Regions from separate parts of the Homo sapiens genome. Here region 2 is reported to be linked to region 1. The links are microRNA targets in miRTarBase. Many come from high-throughput screens and were not tested one by one. Region 1 holds a microRNA gene; the other region holds the end of a gene's coding sequence.
What was found. Region 1 holds the annotated microRNA hsa-miR-874-3p (CUGCCCUGGCCCGAGGGACCGA, at 1,093-1,114, opposite strand). A microRNA usually pairs through its seed, bases 2 to 8, with sites in the 3' UTR of a target mRNA and lowers its output. Matches are read on the target gene's strand: a 7mer-m8 pairs with bases 2 to 8, a 7mer-A1 pairs with bases 2 to 7 and ends in A, and an 8mer does both.

Region 1 (3,402 bases):
TAGTTGTTTCCATGGATACCTGATGTTAGCAAGCAGTTAGGCAAATACGAGTATTTCCCACAGTCTACATGTATCACATCTCTGAAATCACAAACTTCTAGCTACTTAAGAAGACCACAAGATGTTAGAGGAAGAGACTTGAACCATTCTCTCCTATATGCCCTCATTTTATATTCCAGAAACACCCAGGCCCAGGGAGTTCAACAAGCATGTTTCTTTCTTTCCCCAACACTCCTAAACCCCAATATACTTAAGATTAATATGCCTTTATTAGAAATTACTCAATCAAATCAGCTTATTTAATGATCACTATTTTTAACATTTATCTTTCAAGGTAACCCTGAGTAAGAACTATCAGTCACGTAGGAATCACAAACTAAAGAACTGGCTCTAGGTGAACAATTATGCTAGACTGAACATAATTTAATCACTCTCGTGAACTGCAGCATACTTAGGAGTTTGGCAGGGTGCCTCAAAGTTCTGATCCCAAGTCTCAACTGTCACTGTGTTGAAGGCTGCAGAAGTTCTGGTGAATGGAGGTTCTCTGGTTGACAGAATATGAGTGAGCTGAACTCCACTGTAGCAGAGATGGTTATTAGATACCTCCCAAGGAAAACACTGTCATTTTGAAAAGTCAAATAGCCATTTATTTTAGGAAGATTAGTGAGCCCAAGCAAAAGACTACCTGATTCCTTAGGAAGGAAATTTTACTCCCAGCATAACATTTTTAAAAATAAATATATAATGCTCTCTTGTTTACATAGATGATTCTGATTCTACCAGCGTGACTGTGGGATTGAAGGCATGTTGGTCCCTCCTCACCGAAATCACAACCACCCTGTGTCTGAGAGCCATTAGGTGCCAGGGACTAGCCAGGGAAAGGGACAATCCATGAAGAGAATAGAGATTTCCAGCCTACGTGTAGATCAAGACCCTAGCCCTGGCCTCAGGACTACATAGGTCATTCAAATTTCTACTCAGGTGAGAGGAACAATCTGGGCTCTACACACTTTTTTCATCGGGCAAGAGTAGAATGCATGTCCAAACTCTCTTCTGTGACCGGTGAGCTGGGCAGAAGGCAGGCCCAGCCAGTCGGTCCCTCGGGCCAGGGCAGGAAGCGAGAGTCTCTCTTACCCTGGTGCGTGGGGCCGCAGGGCTAACACCAACAATTCATCCGATGGAGCATGTCGAGGTCGAGCCAGAAGACTTGTCCAAGCAGGTTCCTGAGCAACAGTTGCTCTAGGCAAGTACTGATAGCAAGGTGCAGAGAAAATGGGGGTCTGAGAACCAGGTAATATGAGGGCAAGGCCCGGGGGGAGAGAAGAGGAGTGGAAAAAATGGGCTTTGGAATCAGACACATCTGGGCCCAAATATAGTATCAGCCCAGTCACTATATAGCTGTGTGGCTATGAGCAAGACATTGAACCTTGCTAAGCCTCATTTTCATAACTTGTAATATCAGGATAATAGGATGCTTCCCATATGGGTGTCAGGAGGCTTAAATGATATGAAGCACTTAGCACAATGCTTGATAAATAGTAAACACTAAATGTTATCTGATTAACACTAGTGTCATTATTAGCTTCTAAGGCAGGTGCTAAAAAACAGATTCCCAATGAAAGGTAGAAAAGGATACTATGAACCTGTGAGGGAGGGTAAGTACCACTAATTCTAGGGGTGATTATGGGGCTTTTTCAGGACCCCAGGGTGCTTGTCAGGGTGTGGACCAAGGTGGAAGGGGGCAGTGCCCATCCAGGGGCCTGGGCCAAATGAGAGGTCATCCCATCCACCCTGTCAACAGCTTCTTCAAATACCATCTACTGAAAGCAGGACAGCCCAACTCAGGAGCAAGCCACCCACTTCCAGCCCAAATGGCGTTTCAGTAGCATTTTTAAAGAGCTGAATAGAGATGCCAACTGAACTGGAATGACAGTGAAAAGTGCCAGGTTCAGTACATTTCCAAAAGGTTCATTTGCATCTTCCTGAAACCTCATTTCCTTGCTGCCATCTGTGGAACAGGGTAACGTAGGAGACTTCTGAGTGGCTGGGAGACAGCCTCGGGTTGTCCATGGCAACCCAGCCTCAGGAAAAGTGCTGGGCGGTGAATGTGTGGGAGCCAAGATGATGCTGTTAGCTGTTCCGGCTGGGATGTGTCAGTATGCTCTGTGCATATATGGCTCAGGAAAAACACCTTTATTAGCCTCTGCAGCTATCTCAAGGCAGAGTCCTGTTCCTCTCAGGGAAAGGACTTGGCTGGCAAACAGAGTTACTGCTGAGAATTACTGAATATAGTGCAGGTCTCTCTCCACCATGTTGTTTTTCAAAGTTTGCTCTGCCAGAAAGCCTATCTGGACTGAATTTATGAAAGCACAAACCAGCCTGCCCTTGGAATTCCTATGCCTGCTTCTCCAACTAGTCCAATTATCTCCTGATTTTTCTTCTTTCTCTACTTATTTGGTTGTTCATATATGTCTATCTTACTTTCTCAGAGAGACTTCTTAAAATTAAAAGTCCCCAAAGGGCAGGAATCAGGTTTCTTTCAACACAGCATTCGGCTATAATGCTTTTGTGACATTTGGAAGCAATATAATAAAACAGTTCAGAGCACAGGGCCTCGGGCCAGTCATCCTAGGCTTAAACCTCAACTCAGCCATTTACTAATTGTGCTTTAAAGATGGGTCACAAATTCTGTGATACTACTACACTCAGACGTGGAACTTAATACCTCTCCCCTTAAGTGTGGGCTAGACTTAGTGACTTGTATCTAGCAAATAAAAGACAGAAGTGATGGGACATGGATTTTGACATTAGGTTATAAAAACACTACAGCTTCTGTGTTAGATGTGTGCTCTCATTTTCTTGCTCTAGAATCACCCTCTCTGGAAGAAAGCCAGCATGTCATGAGGACACTCAAGCAGCTTATGGAGAGGCCCACATGGCAAGAAACAGGCCTGCCAGCAACCACATGAGTGAGCTTAGAATCAGATCCTCCCCAAACAAGCCTGAAATAACTGCACCCCGACCAACAGCTTGACTGTATGAGAGACCCTGGGTCAAAAGGACCCAGCTAAGCCACTCCAGGATTCCTGCCCACAGAAACTGTGAGATGATAGATGTTTATTGTGTTAAGCCATCGTAGGGTAATTTGTAATGCAGAAATAGATAACTAATGCATAATAAGTGGGTGACATAACCCAAGGTCCAACTTCCTCATCTGCAAAATGGGGATAATTACAGTTATGAAAATCCTATGAGATAACAAATATAAGTCACTTAGCCCAGTGGCTGGCACATGATAAGTGCTCAGTAATTGATATCTGCTGTTATCATTATTGTGGGTACTAGTATCATGTAGTGATTAAAAGCCCAGGCTTTGAGTCAGCCAGACTTGGATTCAAGTCC
Region 2 (3,393 bases), not on the chromosome of region 1:
GTGGCCTCATTGGGGCCAGCGGGGCCACCATGCCCACCGACACAAGCAAAAGTGAGAAGCTGGCTTCCAGAGCAGTGGCGCCACCCACCCCTGCCAGCAAGAGGGACTGTGTCAAGGGCAGTGCTACCCCCAGTGGGCAGGAGAGCCGCACAGCCCCCGGAGAAGCCCGCAAGGCGGCCACACTGCCAGAGATGAGCGCAGGTGAGGAGAGTAGCAGCTCGGACTCCGACCCCGACTCCGCCTCGCCGCCCAGCACTGGACAGAACCCGTCAGTGTCCGTTCAGACCAGCCAGGACTGGAAGCCCACCCGCAGCCTCATCGAGCACGTATTTGTCACCGACGTCACTGCCAACCTCATCACCGTCACAGTGAAGGAGTCTCCCACCAGCGTGGGCTTCTTCAACCTGAGGCATTACTGAAGCCCCGGCGCCACCAGCTGCGCGGTCTTACTCCCCTTCCCTGCCTATGGTGTCGCTTGGCTAAGTGACTCCCAGCCCAAGCCCCCTCAAGAGTCTGGGTCGGGGGAGGAGGAGTGGGTGGCCTCCTTGATGGGCAGGCTTGGAAGGGACTTCTCCCGCACCCCACTCTGTCCCAGGACATAGGGCAGGGGGCCTCACTGCCTTGTTGGTCTCCACCTTGTTCCTACCTCTGCAGGCCTCTTTGCTCTCCCCTCTTGCCTCAGGAAACCCGGTGGCACCTGTGGCTCCAGGTGACTGTCTTGAACAGAGCGGGCTTCTTCATGGCTGCGTTGTTGCTGAGTTTGAACTGCTCCTCCCTGGCCTGCGTGACTGAATCACAGCTTTGGTCCCTGTCTTGCAGGGGCTGAGGTGTCAGGAGGGGACTTCTGGCCCACCTTGCCTTCAGCCCTGGAGTGGGCAGAGAGTATTGTGGGGAGGCATGGCCAGTGGGACTAGTGTTCCCTCCATCTGGCCACAGCTTTTGGGAGATGGGGTGGGCAGGGGTGGTCCTGGCTGGCATTGCCTGAGCCGGCAGTGATGAAGTGGGGAGCTTGCCCTTGACAGGTGGGGGCTGGCTGGGGCCTTAATGTGAAAAGACAGTGGCAGGCAGCTGGAGTAGAGCGAGCCCAGCAGCCCTAAAAGGCTGCCTTCATGGCCATCTAGCCCCAGTTCAGGGCAGCATCCATAGCCCACAAGCCAGCGTGGGTGGGGCGGGGGTGGTCCCACAGCTGGGTTCCACCTGAAGAGCCTCCGTGCCTCGGAGCAGGAGAGGCAGGCTATGGCTGCCACCCTCCCTCCTGCCTGTGTCCCAGTGAGAACTGACCTGAGTCCCCTTCCAAACCCAGACCCACCTCCTGCCCCAGGCCCACTGAAGCATGTTCCATTTCTAAAAAGCCCAGAGTTCAGTGTGTCCCAAGGAAAACCCAAAGTGGAGGTGCTCAGGTCCAGGGGAGTCCAGTGGGCAGGACCCTTGGCAGGCAAGCCCCTCCCTTCACTCCCAGGACCTACCTTCTGCTAGTAAAGGACTGGCTTCATTCTAATTATGGCCCACAGACTGCCCCGGAGACCTGGAGGACAGCAGTGCTGGCACTTGGGTGTCCATGGGCCCGTCTGCCGGCTCTGCCTGTGCTGCAAGTGTTGGCCGTGGGTCCAGCCAACAACTCCCTACGTCCTGTGTGGGGCCCTGCCCAAGTGGATGAGGCATTCCTTGAGGAGTATCATTTTCCCTGACAATCCCCATCACCTTTAGGGGTTCCCTGCTTGGCTCCTTTCCAGCTGAAAAACTAGACCTGTGCCATTGGGGAAGCTGGACAAAGTCTAGGGGGCCCGCCTGGTAGAGGGTCCCGGGAAGCTGGATCTGTCAGCCTCGGCCCTGAGGCCCCTGTTAACTCAAGACTGTGAGCTGCCTCTAGGTGGTCACGTCTGGGAGCTAGCTTGTATGGCTTCTGACCAGTATCAGGATTTCTGTTCTGAGAGCAGCGTGGGCAGCAAGGCAGGGCAGCCCAGAGGTGGCAGCGGCAGGCAATCTGGTCACTAGGTCTTTGTGATGCCAAAAATAAAAGAGGGTGGGGTGGGTGCTTTCTGTTCCTCTGATTGGATGGAGTCCGCCAGCAGGCATGGGGCTACATTCCAGTGCCTGACTATAGGGAGGCACTCCTGATTCCATGGAGCAGCCCGGACTTTGAGAATGGGCTCTGGTTTGCGGGGGGCAGGCGTACCAGACTGCAAGACCCCCCAGTACCTCACCGTGCCAAATAGGAAGAGGTGGCCTTGGTGTAGCCAAATGGATCTTTTTAACAGTGTGCCTTTGGGGAGGGACCCATGTCCATGGCTTCGTTGAGGGCCATCCATATGCCAGCTGGGGGCCAGCCCACAGTGGCCATATTGGCTGCAGCAGGAATGGTGCCCACCTCGGCGAATTGAAGGGCTAAGAGTCCCAGATAGCTAGGCCAGAGCTGGAAGCAGACAGTAAGGGGAAGAGCTGCTCCCACAGGAGAGGGAGAGATTCCAGCTCACTGCGCAGCCTGGGAGGAGGCGTGGATCCTGGCACGCTGAGCCTCAGGCACCAGCCTCCCTGTGCTCGACAGCAAAGTCTTGACTCCTTCCTGCTGAGCACTGTGCTACCTTCACTGCTCCAAAGCCAGACTAACAGCTCTCCAAGCCCTTGGGGTGACTCGGCTTCCAGGAGCTGTTGGAGAAATGAGGATGTCTGTCCCTGTCTGCCTGGGCAGGCCAGATTCCTCCCCAGCAGCCGGGTCTCTCCAGACCCTGATTCGGTGCCTTTCTGTTTACCAGCTACTTCAATCCCAAAGTTTGAATCTGCAGATACCTTACTCCCAGCCACTTTGCCTTCTTACTGTGTTGTGTGTTTTTCCTGGTGCTTCAAGAGCGTGTGCAGGGCAAGTGCCGTCACTGGGAACTGCACCAGATGCTCAGACTTGGTTGTCTTATGTTTACCAATAAATAAAAGTAGACTTTTTCTATTTTTATTTGCTGCTATTTGTGTGTGTGTTTGTGTTTGTGTAGCTAGGTATCTGGCACTTCTGACGATGCATTGTTGCTTTTTTCCCGAAGGTCCCGCAGGAACTGTGGCAATGGTGTGTGTGTGAAATGGTGTGTTAACCGCGTTTTGTTTGCTCCTGTATTGAATAGGAAGCAGTGGCCAGTCTGTCTTCCTTAGAGATGTTAGCATATTTTTATATGTATATATTTTGTACCAAAAAAGAGTGTTCCTTGTTTTGGTTACACTCGAAATTCTGACCTAGCTGGAGAGGGCTCTGGGCCGAGAGCTTTCACTAAGGGGAGACTTCAGGGGAGGATCAAGCTTTGAACCAAAGCCAATCACTGGCTTGATTTGTGTTTTTTAATTAAAAAAAAAATCATTCATGTATGCCACTTCTAATTGCTTTCAACTATGGCTGTTTGCTTTCTTAAA

Region 2: miRTarBase lists CBX2 as a target of hsa-miR-874-3p. Seed matches in the 3' UTR shown: 7mer-m8 at 1,130-1,136, 7mer-m8 at 1,952-1,958 and 8mer at 2,854-2,861.

The regions. Positions count from the first base shown.
Region 1 is chr5:137,646,490-137,649,891 of GRCh38, forward strand. It overlaps MIR874 (microRNA 874), which reads right to left and starts at 1,160; the gene lies at 1,083-1,160. All of the region lies in intron 8 of KLHL3 (kelch like family member 3), which reads right to left.
Region 2 is chr17:79,784,624-79,788,016 of GRCh38, forward strand. It overlaps CBX2 (chromobox 2), which reads left to right. Exons shown (of 5, transcript NM_005189.3): 5 at 1-3,360. The coding sequence ends at 419. Among named protein-coding and RNA genes, the nearest start is that of CBX2, 8.2 kb to the left of the region's middle.